Homo sapiens: one gene and its partners. The protein of the gene in region 2 purifies or fractionates together with the protein of the main gene of each other region. This does not show direct contact. Each region holds a gene or a part of one and is shown on either strand. Other genes may lie near its edges.

What was found. The genes of interacting proteins can lie anywhere in the genome.
Region 1: the proteins of PROSER2 (region 2) and INPP5K purify together in Homo sapiens (affinity purification with mass spectrometry; 2 studies listed by BioGRID and IntAct, with this or other methods). This does not show direct contact.
Region 3: the proteins of PROSER2 (region 2) and RDH13 purify together in Homo sapiens (affinity purification with mass spectrometry; 2 studies listed by BioGRID and IntAct, with this or other methods). This does not show direct contact.
Region 4: the proteins of PROSER2 (region 2) and MTHFD2L purify together in Homo sapiens (affinity purification with mass spectrometry; 2 studies listed by BioGRID and IntAct, with this or other methods). This does not show direct contact.

What each region holds. Positions count from the first base shown.
Region 1 is NC_000017.11:1,505,539-1,510,223, reverse strand, and holds part of INPP5K (inositol polyphosphate 5-phosphatase K), read left to right. Parts: intron 1-424; coding exon 425-541; intron 542-870; coding exon 871-1,046; intron 1,047-1,997; coding exon 1,998-2,109; intron 2,110-3,134; coding exon 3,135-3,244; intron 3,245-4,685. UniProt on the Homo sapiens protein: Inositol 5-phosphatase which acts on inositol 1,4,5-trisphosphate, inositol 1,3,4,5-tetrakisphosphate, phosphatidylinositol 4,5-bisphosphate and phosphatidylinositol 3,4,5-trisphosphate.
Region 2 is NC_000010.11:11,850,856-11,854,355, reverse strand, and holds part of PROSER2 (proline and serine-rich protein 2), read right to left. Parts: exon of another isoform or gene 2,600-3,500; intron 2,360-2,599; 5' UTR 2,279-2,359; coding exon 2,141-2,278; intron 1-2,140.
Region 3 is NC_000019.10:55,055,575-55,060,259, forward strand, and holds part of RDH13 (retinol dehydrogenase 13 isoform 1 precursor), read right to left. Parts: intron 3,702-4,685; coding exon 3,583-3,701; intron 1,235-3,582; coding exon 1,079-1,234; intron 1-1,078. UniProt on the Homo sapiens protein: Retinol dehydrogenase with a clear preference for NADP. Oxidizes all-trans-retinol, but seems to reduce all-trans-retinal with much higher efficiency. Has no activity toward steroids.
Region 4 is NC_000004.12:74,297,507-74,302,191, forward strand, and holds part of MTHFD2L (bifunctional methylenetetrahydrofolate dehydrogenase/cyclohydrolase 2, mitochondrial), read left to right. Parts: intron 1-4,190; coding exon 4,191-4,303; 3' UTR 4,304-4,685. UniProt on the Homo sapiens protein: Bifunctional mitochondrial folate-interconverting enzyme that has both NAD/NADP-dependent methylenetetrahydrofolate dehydrogenase and methenyltetrahydrofolate cyclohydrolase activities.

The DNA of each region.
Region 1 (4,685 bases), on a different chromosome or scaffold from region 2:
AATGCTGAAACCAAAAAATAATAGCTTTCAGATAATCCCCACAGCATCTATGAGATGGATTCCTACTTTATCAATGAGAAAATACACTGAGAAACTGCCTCAATGTCAAATACTAAGAATCAGAGCCAGGGTTTGAACCCAGATCTAACTTCAAAGCCAGTATCCTTAGCTTATCTTCTCTTCCCGCCACCCGCACGCCTAGGCGCAGAATCGAAAACCTCAGCCCCCAGAATGTATCATTTGGCAGCTGAGAAGAAGAATGGAAAGGCTTGAAACTCTGAGATTCAAACTGGGATATCGTAGACCCTGGAGCAGGACACTGCATGTAGCTGAGGGCTCTCTAGAGTCCCTAGCACGGAGCTTGGAAGGGATGCACTTGGCCTGTGTGGTTTAATGAGCGACCTTTGCCCTCTCTCTCCTGCAGGTCTCCCATGTCCGTATGCAGGGGATCCTCTTACTGGTCTTTGCCAAGTATCAGCATTTGCCCTATATCCAGATTCTGTCTACTAAATCCACCCCCACTGGCCTGTTTGGGTACTGGGTAAGGACTGAGCTATTGTCTGAGTCGTGAGCTGGGAAGGGCTGGGAACTGTGGAGCTGGGCAAAAGAAAAAGGAAGTGAAAGGAATCTTGGTCCTCTGTCCAGCCCAATGCATGTTTGTTCTTTTGCCTCAGAGTGGGCTTGCTATCCCTGAGGCCAGGCGAGGCGAGCTGGGCTCTGTGCATGGAGAGATCACCCTGGGAAGCTTAGTTACTGTCCCTAGGAGACCCTGCAGGAAGTGAGACTGTCTGCCCTCAGGTCCAGGATGTGGAAAGAGGGGTGTGTCCAACCCGAGTAGCTTCCCACTCTTCTGTTGACCTGTTCTACCAGGGGAACAAAGGTGGAGTCAACATCTGCCTGAAGCTTTATGGCTACTATGTCAGCATCATCAACTGCCACCTGCCTCCCCACATTTCCAACAATTACCAGCGGCTGGAGCACTTTGACCGGATCCTGGAGATGCAGAATTGTGAGGGGCGAGACATCCCAAACATCCTGGACCACGAGTGAGCCTGGGTCTGGCAGACCGTTCCCCGCCCTCTGCCCCACGCTAACCCCCACTAACCCCCACGAGTGAGCCTGGGTCTGCAGACCGCTCCCCGCCCTCTGCCCCACGCTGACCCCCACGAGTGAGCCTGGGTCTGCAGACTGTTCCCCGCCCTCTGCCCCACGCTGACCGCCACGAGTGAGCCTGGGTCTGCAGACTGTTCCCCGCCCTCTGCCCCACGCTGACCCCCACGAGTGAGCCTGGGTCTGCAGACCGTTCCCCGCCCTCTGCCCCACGCTGACCGCCACGAGTGAGCCTGGGTCTGCAGACCGTTCCCCGCCCTCTGCCCCACGCTGACCCCCACGAGTGAGCCTGGGTCTGCAGACTGTTCCCCGCCCTCTGCCCCAGCTGACCGCCACGAGTGAGCCTGGGTCTGCAGACTGTTCCCCGCCCTCTGCCCCACGCTAACCCAAGCCAGCATCCTCTGCTCCATCACGGATCCCCCAGCCAGTGTCGTCAGTGTTCTGGCTCCCACCCTCTCCCTGACCCTTCCCTGGTGCCCATCTGCTGTCTCCCCTTGCTTTGCCTGCCTGGGGTCCCCTTCCTCCAGCCCGTCTGTCTTGCTTAGAAACCCTGAACACTTGGGAACAGGTCAAGGACCTTGTGGCTCCTGAGGTCACCAGGAGGGCTTCTCAGCCTTTCCTCGTGACCAGTTAAGGAGAGGAAGGAAGGGCCACAGCCTGCTCTGTGTTTGCCAGAGCAGGCTCTTTGGTAGGTCTCTCCGGTTTGAATGGTGGTTTAGGAGCCATGAGAACAGTTCCAGAGGACCCACGCGTGCCCTGGCGTCTCACTTGCCCCTCAGGTTTTCTGTGCCCCAGCAGCCCTTGGGTTGAGCAGGCTGAGCCACCTGGTGATCTCCCTTCCCCGACTTCATCACAAATCCTCAGGCTGCCCTCCTTTTTTTCTGAAGCCTCATTATCTGGTTTGGAGACATGAACTTTCGGATCGAGGACTTTGGGTTGCACTTTGTTCGGGAATCCATTAAAAATCGGTGCTACGGTGGCCTGTGGGAGAAGGACCAGGTATCCAGTGAGGGGAGGGTCCCAGGGGGTGATCTGAGCCCACGGTGGGGGCCATGTGAGCTGTGCAGAGTGTTGCTAGATGCCCTCGCTGCTGTTTTCTTTTGCCCAGGTCTGGTGGGGGAGGCTGTCTAGCAGGGCTTCGCATCCAGGGGTGAGGCAGCCACGCCTGATCTTCACATGGAAAAGCCAGGGTAACAGACCCTGGATGTGCTTTAGAATAGAGAGTCAGATACAAAGCATGAAATGAATTATTTAAAAAAGAAGAATAGGGGCCGGGCACGGTGGCTTATGCCTGTAATTCCAGCACTCTGGGAGGCCGAGGTGGGTGGATCACCTGAGGTCGGGGGTTTGAGACCAGCCTGACCAACTTGGAGAAACCTCATCTCTACTAAAAATACAAAAAAAAATTCGCCGGGCGTGGTGGCACGTGCCTGTAATCCCAGCTACTCGGGAGGCTGAGGTAGGGGAATCGCTTGAACCCGGGAGGCAGAGGTTGCAGTGAGCAGAGATAGCGCCATTGCACTCCAGCCTGGGCAACAAAAGCAAAACTCCATCTCAAAAAAAAAAAAAGAAGAAGAATAGGGAACCAGAAGGGCTTTGCACCAGGTACCATCATGCGTCAGCCCATCGTGTCCCTGTCGTCTTTCCCATCCCCAGCCTCGTTTCCCTCTTGGAGGGTGAGGTGCCCCTTTGGAGAACCCTGGCTTCCCCAGGTTCCCCTCTGACACATGTCTGCTAGTGATCTCCCCTAGAGATGGAATTCCAAGTTGGGTCCCTGCAGTCTAAGGACTGGGAAACGGCAGACAGCTGCCTCCCCTGGGCCTTGGTAATGTTTCCGAAAGGATTCGCCTGCTTTCTGGTGGGAGTGGGCTGCTGAGTAGTCACTGGGGCAGTGAGGAATTGGAGTGGCATTGCTTGACTCTTGCCCCATTTGTGACGGCATGTGCTGATCCCTTGAATGGAGTGTGGTACTGGGCCACTGGGTCGAGACTACTGGGAGACGGGGACTATGACTTTGTCTGCAGCTCAGCATTGCCAAGAAACATGACCCGCTGCTCCGGGAGTTCCAGGAGGGCCGCCTACTCTTCCCGCCCACCTACAAGTTTGATAGGAACTCCAACGACTATGACACCAGGTGAGGAGGGAGTGGGGGGCCAGAAGGTCTAGGAAGTCAGGTTACACTGACCCTGCTGGCATGGGAACTGTCTCAGAATAGAAGTGTTAGGGGGGGCAGGAATTGGTCTAGTCATCCCCTCTCCAGAGTGGCACCTCCTGTCCACTTCATGAGGCGCTGACTCGGGGAGCCGTCCCAGATCTCGAGAGAGTGGGAGGAAAGCCAGTGCCAGCAAGGGCAGGAGAGGTGTGTAGGGGGTGGGGGTGTTACAGATAGAACCAGAGGAGAGGGTGGAGCAGCTGCCTCCTGACCTAGGAGGGACTGCACTTCAGCTTCGGGAAACCCCAGACCTTCTGGTCCCCAAACGGGGCAGAAAGCTTGGCCCAGCCAGTTACTGGTATTAAGGACGCCTGCCCCAGCCTGTGAATGGGTCAGGTCTTGTGTGAGAAGGTGAAGTAGTAGGTAGAGAGTTTCATCAGGATCAGTGTAGAGATCATGAGTCTGGTAGTTAGAAGCACGGCTCTGTCTTATTTTAGCCAAAGCGTTTAGGCCTTGATTTTGTCAGCTATAAGGTGTGGATGAGAAGAGCACACACCTCATGAGGCTGAGGACTGAAGGAGGCCGTCACCCAGTAACCATGGGAGAGAACGGCTATTGTGACTTTTCGATTCATGCCGGCTGGGCGCGGTGGCTCACACCTGTAATCCCAGCACTTTGGGAGGGCCGAGGCAGGTGGATCACTGAAGGTCAGGAGTTTGAGACCAGCCTGACCAACATGGTAAAACCCCATCTCTACTAAAAATTCAAAAATTAGCTGGGCATGGTAGCGCGCACCTGTAATCCCAGCTACTCAGGAAGCTGAGGCAGGAGAATTGCTTGAACCCAAGAGGCAGAGGTTGCCGTGAGCCGAGATCTCACCGCTGCACTCCAGCCTGGGTGACAGAGCGAGACTCCGTCTCAAAAAAATAATAATAAAATAAATAGATTCATGTCTTCCCGTGATAGATTTACTAAAAACCTTTCTAAGAAGCTGAGAAGGGGCCAAATAACCACCAAAACCTGAGAAAGAACCACTGGCAACATGTCCCTGACTCATTTTGGGGCAAGGAACCTAATCTCTTTGAAGAAAAGAAGAGCCCCTTACATGTCATGAGGGTCTTTGTTCCAGCGGGAGCAGCTTGTTCATTCCTCCTAGCTGGAGTGTCTCTGTGAGGGAGGCGGGAGGTACCGGCAGGGCAGCCCAGGGCTTTGGGATTTAGCCAGGGAAGAAATATCTCCACAGCCAGACCAAGACAAGAGGTAGAACTCAAGCTTGGTTCTGGAAGTGTTACAGCAAAGCCAAAATATCCTTGTCAAGGAAAGGGGGAAAGAGTGAGCCGATTCAGCAGTGTGGAGCAAGACAGGGTAGGGTCGTGAGCAGGGCCGTCCACAGAAGAGGAGGCAGTGGACGCTGGGGAAGGGA
Region 2 (3,500 bases):
AGCCTGGGTGACAGAGCAAGACCTTGTCTTAAACAAAAACAACAGAAAACCACTTTAGTTGTCATTTAAAGTTAAATGCCATATTTTCTCATTTTGCTAGTTCTAAAGGAAAGTACACAACTGTGAAATAATAAGATGACAAGTAAACTTAGCTCAATGTCCCTGGAGGAAAATGCCTGAAAACAGTTAACAGGCCTGAGGGGAAGGCAAGGAAACACGACCAGAACATTCCTCCAACATCAGGAGGAGAACAGGTCTAAGGCTGGATATGCAGCAGAATTCTGTGATCCCAAACACACACCATGTAGACGTAACTTAATTATAGGCGTCCTATGAGTGGGCTTTACAATGCTGTTTCCATTATTCTACCCTATGATATACAGGGACAGGCACGGCAGGGAACAGACAGAGAGACATCACATATACCACGGGAGTGCTACTGGATGATTTACCGGATAGGAAAGAACTGGGTAGAACAGGAATCCTTTAATTTAAAATCAAACTCATGCCCATAAAACTGGTAGAATTAAGAAATGTGTGCAGTAGGGAGGAGGAAGGAATGTTCCCTTTTACCACCTCACCTTTAGCGATCAAAGAAAAAATAATTTAAACGTCTACGGAGAAACGAAGGAGATGGAAGGAGGAGCATGGATCCAAACAAGATGGTGGCGGCAGGATGAAGGGGAATGGCGCCCCACCTGGACACTAACAGAACACCAGGGAAGGAGAAGCTGGCACCAGAGCTGCTTGGGTGCTGGGCATTTCTTTTGAGATGGAGTCTCGTTCTGTCGCCCAGCCTGGAGTGCAGTGGCGCGATTTCAGCTCACTACAACCTCTGCCTCCTGGTTCAAGTGATTCTCCTGCCTCAGCCTCCCGAGTAGCTGGGATTACAGGTGCCCACCACCACGCCCGGCTAATTTTTGTATTTTTAGTAGAGACGGGGTTTCACCATGTTGGCCAGGCTGTTCTCAAACTCCTGACCTCAGGTTATCCACCTGCCTTGGCCTCCCAAAGTGCCGGGATTACAGGCGTGAGCCACTGTGCCCGGCCAATCAAATAATATTTATCACATATTACCATAATGGTTTTAAAAAAGAAAATATGCAAGTGGGGGTCTAGAAAATTCTGTCATTACTAATAACTACCCCATACCAAGTATATCTAGCTTCAGCGTAACTGAGGCTAATTTTATGGCTCAGTGTATCTGAGGGAAACTGGCGTTCCCACTGGAAGGAGAGGACCTGAGAGGTGCCCCCAATGGTTCCTAGTGAGGCCCGGGGGACCATTTCTCTCCTGTGCTCCTCCCTCTAGGAGTGAGTGTCATGGTCTCCCCTCTCTTGAAAGATGAATGTCCTCACCGGGGAAGGCACGAGATCCTCTTAACTTCACCAACTCTTTTTGTAAAGTTCCCAAAGCTATGCAAAGGTCTGGATTCTGAGAAGGATACAAAAGCATCTTTACTTGCACAGGAGTGAAACATCAGCTTGAGTGGCCGGGCGCGGTGGCTCACGCCTATAATCCCAGCACTTTGGGAGGCCTGGCGCGGTGGCTCACGCCTATAATCCCAGCACTTTGGGAAGCTGAGGTGGGCGGAGTTCGAGATCAGCCTGGCCAACATGGTGAAACCCTGTCTCTACTAAAAATACCAAAAAAAAAAAAAAAAAAAAAAAATAGCCGGGTGTGGTGGCACGAGCCTGTAATCCCAGTACTTGGGAGGCTGAGGCAGGAGAACTGCTTGAAGTTGGGAGGCGGAGGTTGCAGTGAGCCAAGATCGCGCCACTGGAGGACAGAGTGAGACTCTGTCTCAAAAAAAAGAGTCAACTGTGTTTATCGTGTGAGCTCTTCAGCAGCGCTCCTGCCTGGGTTGGTTTCTGCCCCGGGCCTGGTCCTATCTACGTCTAAGCAGCCATGAGTTACTGGCCACAGCGAGGGATTTGCTCCATGGCTATGGGTAATGCTCTGTATTTGTGCAAAATTTAAGATGATTAAAAATAAAGAACCACTTCACAAAGAAGTATTCCAGAACATCAAGCTAGTTGACCCAAAAAGATCTGGTAAAATATTCCTTCAAGGGAGAGGGATTGAGGCAAAATCCACTGACCCAGGCACAGGAAAGCATGAAAGAAAAACTGTCACTCACCAAAGTGAAGCTTCTGGAGCGAGAGCTGCTGCTTCGACTCTCCAGGCTGCCGCCTCTGCTGAAGGCTCGGAGCCTGCAGCTGGGGGACGTGTCTGAGTTCATGTCAGATGCGTCTGATTTCCGGTGGGTTACAGGCATCTCCACAGAGTCCTCAGGGCCGGCTCGATCACAGGAAGCAGGGCAGGAGCCAGCAGCCCATTCTGCGGCAACAGCTCACTCCTAGAGACACCAAACACGAATGACAATGGTCAGTAAGCCGAGACTGTAAAACGCCTCAATCCCTCAAAAACATGGCTTAGATTAATCTCCACTCTCAGACTCGACCATTAGGGTAAAGGCGATTGGGAAACGCTAAGTCAACCAGTTTGAGGATGCTGACTGCCATGTCTCCTTTATATTGTTAACCATTCTGAACACATAAGAATAATTTTTAAAAGTTTGTTGTTGTTTTTTTTTCAGAGATAGAGTCTTGCTATGTTGTCCAGGCTGACACTGAACTCTTGGGCTCCAACGATCCTCCTGCCCCGGCCTCCTGAGTACCTGGGATTATAGGCACAAGTCACCATGCCCAGCCGGAATAATCTGAAGGAAAGACGGGTATATTCAAGATGACTTTGCTGCTGGAAATATGACAGAATAATGTGGTATCTTCTTCTGCACTTCCAAGCTCTTTCACACTCAGGCTCTTCCTGGCTTTTCTGCCTCAGCCACCATAAACTGTGGTTGCTTCTCCAGCTCTGTTACAGTTCAGACTTGAGGGGAGGTGACAAGAGCTAACATGTTACCATGGGGAGCCTGGCTGACATCTCCGAAACTGAAGACTCTATGGAAGCCTCATGCTATTGCAATGTGTACATCAAAAGTAAAGTACCCCAGGTTAAAACTATGAGGAAGTTGCCATCTTTACTTCCAGGAGCAAAGACACTGAAACTGTCCCCTGTAAGCCCCTTAATTTCATACAGTCCTCTGACTGCCCCCCCAACCCTGGCTACTTTTTTTTGAAATAAGGTCTCACTCTGTCATCCAGGCTGGAGTGCAGTGGCAAAATCACAATACCCTGCAGCCTTGACCTCATGGGCTCAAGCAGTCCTCCCACCTCAGCCTCCTGGGTAGCTGGGACTACAGGCTTGCACTACCACACCCAGCTTATTTTTTGTAGAGACAGAGTTTCGTCATGTTGCCCAGGCTGGTCTCAGGAGTCACTCCTGAGCTCAAGTGATCCGCCTGCCTTGGCCTCCCACAGTGCTGGGATTACAGGAGTGAGCCACCATGTCTGGTCCTCTGACCCTTTTAGCAGGAAATCCAGCCCAGCCCCTGAACGGCATGTTAGACAGTTCAACAAAGCCTTCTAGAAGACCAA
Region 3 (4,685 bases), on a different chromosome or scaffold from region 2:
CACGCCTGTAATCCCAGCACTGTGGGAAGCTGACCTGGGTGGATCACTTGAGCCCAGGAGTTGGAGACCAGCCTGAGCAACATGGTGAAACCCCAGCTCTAAAAACAAAACAAAACAATAAAACAATAATTAGCTGTGTGTGGTGGCGTATGCCTGTACTCCCAGCTACTTGGGAGGCTGAAGTGGGAGGATCCCTTGAGCCCAGCAGGTTGAGACTGCAGTGAGCCATGACTGCACCACTGCACTCTAGCCTGGGTGACAGAGATGGATCCTGTCTCAAACAAACTAATTATTCAGGTAGGGCACGGTGGCTCACACCTGTAATCCCAGCACTTTGGGAGGCCAAGGGAAGCAGATCACCTGAGGTCAGGAGTTCGAGACCAGCCTGACCAACATGGTGAAACCCTGTCTCTACCTAAAACACAAAAAATTAGCCAGGCACGGTGGCGGGTGCCTGTAATCCCAGCTACTCAGGAGGCTGAAGCAGGAGAATCATTTGAAATCGGGAGACGGAGGTTGCAGTGAGGCAAGATCACACCACTGCACTCCAGCCTGGGCAACAGAGCGAGACCCCATCTGTCTCAAAACAAACAAACAAAACAAAGTCAGCCGGGCGCAGTGGCCCACGCCTGTAATCCCAGCACTCTGGGAGGCTGAGGCAGGAGAATCACCTGAGGTCAGGAGTTCCAGACCAGCCTGGCCAACGTGGTGAAACCCCGTCTCTACTAAAAATACAAAAATTAGCAGGGTATGGTAGCAGGCATCTTAATCCCAGCTACTCAGGAGGCTGAGGTCCGCGCTTGAACCCAGGAGGCAGAGGTTACAGTGAGCCGAGATCGCGCCATTGCACTCAGCCTGGCCGACAGAGTGAGACTCCCTCTCAAAATAACAGTAGTAATAAATAAATAAAGTCGTTGCTTGCAGGCTGTACAAAAAAAGGCAGCAACTGGACTTGGCCCCTAACTCATAGTTTGCCAAAACTCTGCTCTAAAGTTTGCTTGCTTCATTCACTTCTCAGAGCCTGGCCCTGGGAGCCGCCTATCCCAGTCCTCATCCCACATGGCCAGCGTTCTCCTACCTTCAATGATCTTTGCTGCAAACTCTCGGATAGACTTGAGGGAAGCCAAGTCCAGGTGCCGGGCGTTGACATGGTGATTGAGGGTCTCCCCGCGGATGTCCTTTGCTGCCGCCTCACACTTCTCCATGTCTCGGCAGGCCAGGATGATGTTGCCTCCTGAAAACCCAGGATGGAAAAAGATTTAAATTAATAATCCACTCCTGGGTACTGACCCCAGAGACATGAAAACATACGTCTACACAAAAACACATCCACCAATGTTCACTGCGGCATTCTTCACAAAAGCCAAAAGGTAGAAACAACCAAATGCCCATCTGTGGATGAAGGGACAACAAAATGTGGTCCATCCATAGAGATGGAATATTAGACGGCCGTGAAAAGGAGTGAAGCACTGGCTCATGCTACAGCAAGGATGACCGTCAGAAACACTGTGCTCGGGGAAAGAAACCAGACACGAAAGACCACACAGCGTACAATCCCATTTACATGAATTCTATGTATATGATTTCACACCTATGAAACGCCCAGAATAGGCAAATCCATAGAGAAAGAAAATAGATTCTTGGTTTTCTAGGGCAGGGGGTGGGGAGAGGGAATTACAGCTTGATAGTTACAGTGAGCAGGTTTCTTTCTAGGGTAACAGATGTTCTAAGATTGATTTTAAAGATGGTTGCATCATTCTGTGACTATACTAAACATCACTGAATTGGTCGGGCACGGTGGCTCACACCTGTAATTCCAGCACTTTGGGAGGCCAAGGCAAGAGGATTCCCCATCCTCTCCTTTTTTTTTTTTTTTTAGATGGAGTCTCACTCTGTCACCCAGGCTGGAGTGCGGTGGCGCAATCTCGGCTCACTGCAACCTCCACCTCCTGGGTTCAAGCAATTCTCCTGCCTCAGCCTCCCGAGTAGCTGGGATTACAGGCACCTACCACAACTAGCTAATTTTTTATTTTTTTATTTTTAGTAGAGACAGCGGTTTCACCATGTTAGCCAAGCTAGTCTTGAACTTCTGACCTCAGGTGATCCACCCCGCGGCCTCCCAAAGTACTGGGATTACAAATAAGCCACAATGCCCAGCCTCCAATTTTTTTTGTTGTGGTAAAATACAAATCACTTAAAATTTATCATCTTAACCCCCTTTTCTTTTTGTTTATTATTATTTTTTTTTTTTTGAGTCAGTCTCACTCTGCTGCCGCGGCTGGAGTGCTGGCGCCATCACAGCTCATTCAGCCTTGAACTCCTAGGCTCAAGTGACCTGGGACTATAGGTACCACCTGTGCCAGCATGCCTGGCTAACTCTGGTAGAGATGGGGGTGTTGCTATGGTGTCCAGGCTGGTCTGGAACCCCTGGCCTCAAGTGATCCTCCTGCCTCAGCCTCCAAAAGTGCTGGAATTATAGATGTGAGCCACCGAGACCCGCCCTCTTAGCCATTTTTAAGTGTCCAGTTCATTGGTATTAAAAACATTTATGGCTGGGCCGGGCATGGTGGCTCACACCTGTAATCCCAGCACTTTGGGAGACCAAGGCAGGTGGATCACCTGAGGTCAGGAGTTCAAGACCAGCCTGGCCAACACATTACAAACTTAGCTGGGTGTGGTGTTGCATGCCTGTAATCCCAGCTACTCGGGTGGCTGAGGCAGGAGAATTGCTTGAACCCGGGAGGCGAAGGTTGCAGTGAGCCAAGATCATGCCACTGCACTCCAGCCTGGGCGACAAGAGCAAAACTCCATCTCAAAAAAAAAAAAACAATAATAATAATTCCTAATGTTGTGCAACCATTACAACCATCCATCTCTCAAATTGTTTCATCTTGCCAAACTAAACTTCCGTTTCCATTAAACAGTAACTCCCCATTCTCCCCTCCCCTCCTGACCCCTGGCAAGCACCATTCCAACTTCTCTATGAATTTAACTGTAGGTAGCTCCTGTAAGTGGAATCATACCGTATTTGCTCTTCTGTCGACTGGCTTATTTCACTTCATGGAATGTCCTCAAGGTTCATCTGTTTCAATGCCCTTTTTTTTGTTTTGCTTTGTTTTGTTTTGTTTTTGAGTCTCACTCTGTCACCCAGGCTGGAGTGCCGTGGCGCCATCTCTGCTCACTGCAACCCCTGCCTCTCAGGTTCAAGCGATTCTCCTGCTTCAGCCTCCCAAGCAGCTGGGACTACAGGTGCCCACCACAACTCCTGGCTAATTTTTGTATTTTTAGTAGAGAGGGGGTTTCACCATGTTGGTTAGGCTGGTCTCGAACTCCTGACCTCGTGATCCGCCAGCTTTGGCCTCCCAAAGTACTGATTACAGGCGTGCACCACCGCGCCCGGCCAGAATGCCCTTCCTTTTTAAGGCTGAATCATATGCCCCTGTCTATAGAAGCCACATTCTGTTTCCCTGTTCATCTGTGGATGGGTGCCTGGGTTCCTTCCACCTCCGGACTGTGAATAATGCTGCAGTGAGCATGGATGTACAGATATCTCTCTGAGAGCCAAAGCAGGGGAGATTTTACCTCTCCTGGCCAGTTCCAAGGCGGTCTGCTTCCCGATGCCTGTGTTGGCACCCGTCACGATGACCGTCTTCCCAGGGATGGTGGCCTTGCTGGGGCAAGCCCCACCGGTGACATAGTCCCTGAGGGTGAGAAGCGGCACGGTCAGTCCTGTGGGCCCACTCTCACCCCACGTGCCCCTGACTGAATGATCTCAGGCAACCTTGTCTGAGCTCACTCACATACCCCAACTGAAACACAGACATCATCACATCACACCAAGGGACCTCTGTCATGTTCTCCATAAGTGGCTCCACCCAGTGTCTGGCGTGTGGAACGCCTTCAGCAAGTGACAGTCATTATTTTATAAATGCTCACTGCATGAGATTCCCGGCCAGGTGAGGGGGCTTGCACCTGTAATCCCAGCACTTTGGGAGGCCAAAGTTTTGGGGGTGGGGGGGGGCGGGGGCGGATCACTTGAGGTCAGGAGTTCGAGTCCAGCCTGGCAAACATGGCGAGACCCCGTCTCTACTTAAAATACAAAAATTAGCCAGATGTGTAGGGAAAAGAGAGATTAGACTGTTACTGTGTCTATATAGAAAGGAAAGACATAAGAGACTCCATTTTGAAAAAGACCTGTACTTTGAACAATTGCTTTGCTGAGATGTTGTTAATTTGTAGCTTTGACCCAGCCACTTTGACCCAATCTGGAGCTCACAAAAACCTGTGTTGTATGAAATCAAGGTTTAAGGGATCTAGGGCTGTGCAGGAAGTGCCTTGTTAACACAATGTTTCCAAGCAGTATACTTGGTAAAAGTCATCGCCAGTCTCTAGTCTCAATAAACCAGGGGCACGATGCACTGCAGAAAGCTGCAGGGACCTCTGCCCTTGAACACAGAGTATTGTCCAAGGTTTCTCCCCGTGGGATAGTCTGAAATATGGCCTCGTGGGATGAGAAAGACCTGACCGTCCCCCAGCCCAACACCCGTAAAGGGTCTGTGCTGAGGTGGATTGGTAAAAGAGGAAAGCCTCTTGCAGTTGAGAGAGAGGAAGGCCACTGTCTCCTGCCTGACCCTGGGAACTGAATGTCTCGGTATAAAACCTGATTGTACATTTGTTCAATTCTG
Region 4 (4,685 bases), on a different chromosome or scaffold from region 2:
ATTAAGTCGCTGAAGGAAATTACTATCATATAATGCTTCTGTATTTCTCTTTAATGGAGCATGTAGAACACCTTTTCCCTACACATAATAGGATTAATATTTAAAAGCATCATCTTCAGCCAAGTGCAAACCTTTGTCTGCCCTCAGGGAAAGACTAGCCAATGAGAGGTTATTCTGGTGATGTAATGCTTGTTACCTTGCTCTCTTTCAGGCATGATTGGGGAAGATGCTTTTCAGAACATCAAACATGAATAGAATTTAACTCTTTCTCACATGACTAATTTTAGCACATAAGCCACCTGCAGTATTTCATAAATGTGTTGCTTAAGATCGCCCTGAAATAGTTATGCAAAATCATTAGAGTAGAGAATTTTTGTTAAGCATTGACATCTGTATCCACTGGCACTTGCCAATAGCTCCCCACCTTTCTTGAGAGATCACTTACTTCTGTATCCTGATCCTTACGTAAATGGGCAAAGAATATATTAACACTAGCCAGCAGCAGATAAGCTTATTATTTCCTTCTCAGACACAGATACTCATGAAAATCAAATCAAAAGGAATAGAAACCTAATATGTGTTTTCCAAAGTCAAATTAATCACTCTGTCTCTCATGACCATATACAGGGTTTATCTTCATATCCATATACTTTATTTCAAAAACAAAAAAGATTTAAGCAAGTATTTTAATAACCAGGTGTGTTTACAATGATATTATAATCTTCTGCCTCGTGAATAATTTTCAGATCTCTATTGATGCTACTAAATGTTTATTAATGTTCAGAGAAGCCCTAGCCCAGATCAGGTGAAGACCTATTACCCCTTACATAGCCTGATTCTATGAAAACTGATAGGCAGGACAGGGTGAATATGTGTTGGTTTCCACCAGCGAAGTATGCAAAAATGCAGACACTGAGCTAAAAAATTTCCGGCGGATATTATTTCATGTAGTATCTCATTCCCATTCCCTCCTCCTCCACCCAAACCTCACTTTTTGAGCAAAAGAATGCAATAGTAAGCATGTTGTCTGAAAAACATAATTTGGAAGAGGAAGATAATGATACCTGAGCATACCAGTGGTTTATCTGATCTGACACCAGGAATAAAGCAACTCAGACTGCTAAGCCAGCTGTGTAATTTGAAGTGTAATATGTAGTTCAGAGATGATGAGCTATGAGAACTTATAGTCAAAATGTTGGAAAATTAATATATTAGAATCTTTTCCTCTTCATTTCTTTTTTCCAGAATATCCTGCTAACACTTTGAGAAAACTGAGTTAATTTTTGGCACTTGAGCCATTCTTTGGACTTTTCTACTCGTTTAGGTCATGATAATACAGTTGCATTGGAATGGGGTGAAATTATGGGATTATAGAGCATTTCAAACCTGGCTGTGAATAATGTCTGTACATATAGGAGAGTGATAAGTCACTGTAACTTCACTGAGCCACAGTTTCCTCATCTATTAAAATGAAATAATTAAATATTAATTATTAAAACAGCATAATTCTTGGCAAGTAATTAATAAGTACTCAATTGATAGTAGCTATGGTTTTTACTATTTTTTTCATAGACAAATAATATCAAAGCTGCTTTACCTTTCAAAGTTAGAAACCAAACTATATAAAAATAATTTTATACCCACAATAGGTTTTCTGATATAACAAATTGTATGCCACTTTTAAATTTTGAAATAAATCATTTTGTTTTCCATTGAAGATTCAATTTGCACTTGATTTTTACTTTCCCATATTATTTAGCAGAATTTTATTTTTATATATTAATATTTCAAAGTTAGTGCTTTACAAATATATGACTTTGTGTTCTATTAGTATAAATGGTAGTAGTAGTGTAAATAGTAGTAGTACTGTAAGTAGTAGTAGCAGCAGCAGCAGCAGCAGTAGCAGTAGCAGTAGCAGTAGCAGTAGCATAAATGTTACTTCTAAAGACCTGCCAAGTTTTAAACGCATTGCTTCTCCAGTGCTTGAGAAAAGGTCCTGGAAGGCATTTCTCAGGCCATTAAGTCAGCTTATTGAAAAGTGGAAAATGCAGTTTATCACCCTAAAGCAAAATGAGTAGCTCAAGTTTTTCAGTAAATTAGCTTAAACTAAATTGATATTGTTTACATCCAGTGAAAAGCACTGACACATTTCTGCAAATTGATTTTAGATTTTAAGTAAGGGCAATTTAAGTTCACTTTCTCAAAATCTGCTTAGTGCCTAACCTGTGTATGGAGATATTCTAAGATTAAAAACAACCACCACAATGACTTGGCTTCTGCCTTCTAGATGCTGATGTCTAGTTAAGGGAACAGACAGTGCACAGTGTCTTAAGTTCCATAATGGAGGTAGGTATAAAATTATTGGAAATATAGATGGTGGGGCTTTCAATTCAACACTGGAGGAATGAGTTTTTCAGAAAAATTGTAGACAGGTGACATTTCATTGGCTTTCAGGAAATAATGAGTTTCTTGTTTGGATAAGATGGAATAATGATCCAGGTAGAAGGAACAGTTAGAGCAAAGGAAGAAAGGACTAAAAATTCATAGCTGTTTATTGAATGGCTATTGACCCATTCTAATGTTTCTATAGAATAGAATGCATTAGATGGAAATGTGGCAATGGAAAGGTTGTGCTTTCTGTATAGAGACGCTGTTTGGAAAACTGAAATATTACCTTCCAAATCATAGTATTCTTATATTTTCTTTATAGCATCCCATCAGAAAATTCATAACACATGTTAACTATATATATTTTGTGATGTATTTAAGCTTACTGGACCTTTCTTCAAGTAAAACAATGTTATTCCTTTGCTTTTCCTCAGATTTAAAAAATTATTCCAATGTACTATTCACTTCAAATAAAGTAAAGGTAAATCCCACAAATCATCCTTCAAAAGGGCGACATAAGTTGTGCAAAAATAATACTAAAGATATAGACAACATCTATTTATTTTGATTCATGCAGAAGTCTATATGAGCTAATTGTAAAAGGCAATACATCTAAATAGCATGTGGTTAATAATGTCAGATTATGCATTAAAGAAATATTGTCTATGCTAACTTTTTACTAAAAGTTATTTGGAAAAACTTCATTGCTCTTATTCACACAGTAAACCACCATACCATCAAGTAAATGAATGCAGTAAGTCATTCACCTTTCATACTGTGGGTGTGAAAACATTCTTAAATAAAACTTGCTGAGAGTTATCTGCCATTTTCTTTAAGTATACAGATTCTCCATGACTTATGATGGGGTTACATCCCGGTAATCCTAAGTTGAAAATATCATTAGGTCAGAAATGCATTTAATACACCAAAGATCATACCTTAGTCTAGGCTACCATAAACATGCTCAGAACACTTACATTAGCCTATATTTGGACAAATAATCTCATAATGCAGTACATTGTAGAGTATTGGTTGATCATGGTTGTTCACCTTTGTGATCTCATGGCTGACTGGGAGCTTTGGCTTATTACCACTACTCAGCATCTTGAGAAGTATCGTATCACATATCACTAGCTGGGAGAAAGGTCACAATTCAAAATTTGAAGTATAGTTCCCACTGAATCTGTATGGCTTTTACACAGTTGAAAAATCAAAAAATTATAAGTGAAACCATTGCAAGCTGGGGACCATCTGTATTCACTGAATAAGTTCCCATACCTCTGAACAGGACTATGTATGTGTTCATAATTCAAGTATATTTAGTGATACTTACTAGACTTGAATTGAAATGTATTATCCACACATACATTGTGATATTGTTATAACAGGAATAATTCTATTTAATAAATGGTATGTGCTCAACTTTCTATATTCTATGTCCCTGTGTCCCTTTTGTGACCAGTATCATGTATTTTAGAATTAGTTAACTAGAATTACAGGTAACTGGGTCAATCATGGGTTTCATTATGTAAAACAAACTGAGCTGCATGGAGCTTGAACCTAGGTGTCGGTCCATTTTGGTCTTTCTGTCCACCTTAGATATCATCCACAGAAGTATTCGTCTAAGTGAGTGTGAGCGTGTGTGTGTGTGTGTGTGTGTGTGTCTGTTTATTACAGCCTACTTGATTCTAAAAATGATTTGTATATATAATGAAGAATCACTATATTCAGCATGTTTAAAAATATTAAAATCTCAGATATTTTAAAATAAAGAATATCTGTTTGTTTTTTTTCCTCATCAGCTGTTAAAAAGAAAGCTGGCTTTATCACTCCAGTTCCAGGAGGTGTGGGACCCATGACAGTGGCAATGCTTCTGAAGAACACCCTTCTGGCAGCTAAAAAAATCATTTACTAGATCACATGAAAGGATAAAGCAAACTGAAGTCATGCTATTTGTTTATTTGACAAAGGGTAAAACCTTTATATTTTACTACAAAGCTATTTATTTCTACATGGTATTTATTTTTTCATGGGTGAAATCATTGTGAATCAATTGATTCACATAGTTTTATGCATTTCCTGCTAATTTATTTTGAGTTTTAAGAAAACAACCAAAACAATTCCAATGAAAATTTTAGTAACAATTGTTTATTTTGAGGGTATTTGTTCATAACATTAAAACAATAAAGGGCTCATAATAAATAAATATATTTTTGACACAATTAAATATTACATAGAGTATGTTTACAACAAATATCCTGTCAGCCAAATGGTTACCCATATAAAATGTAATTTAG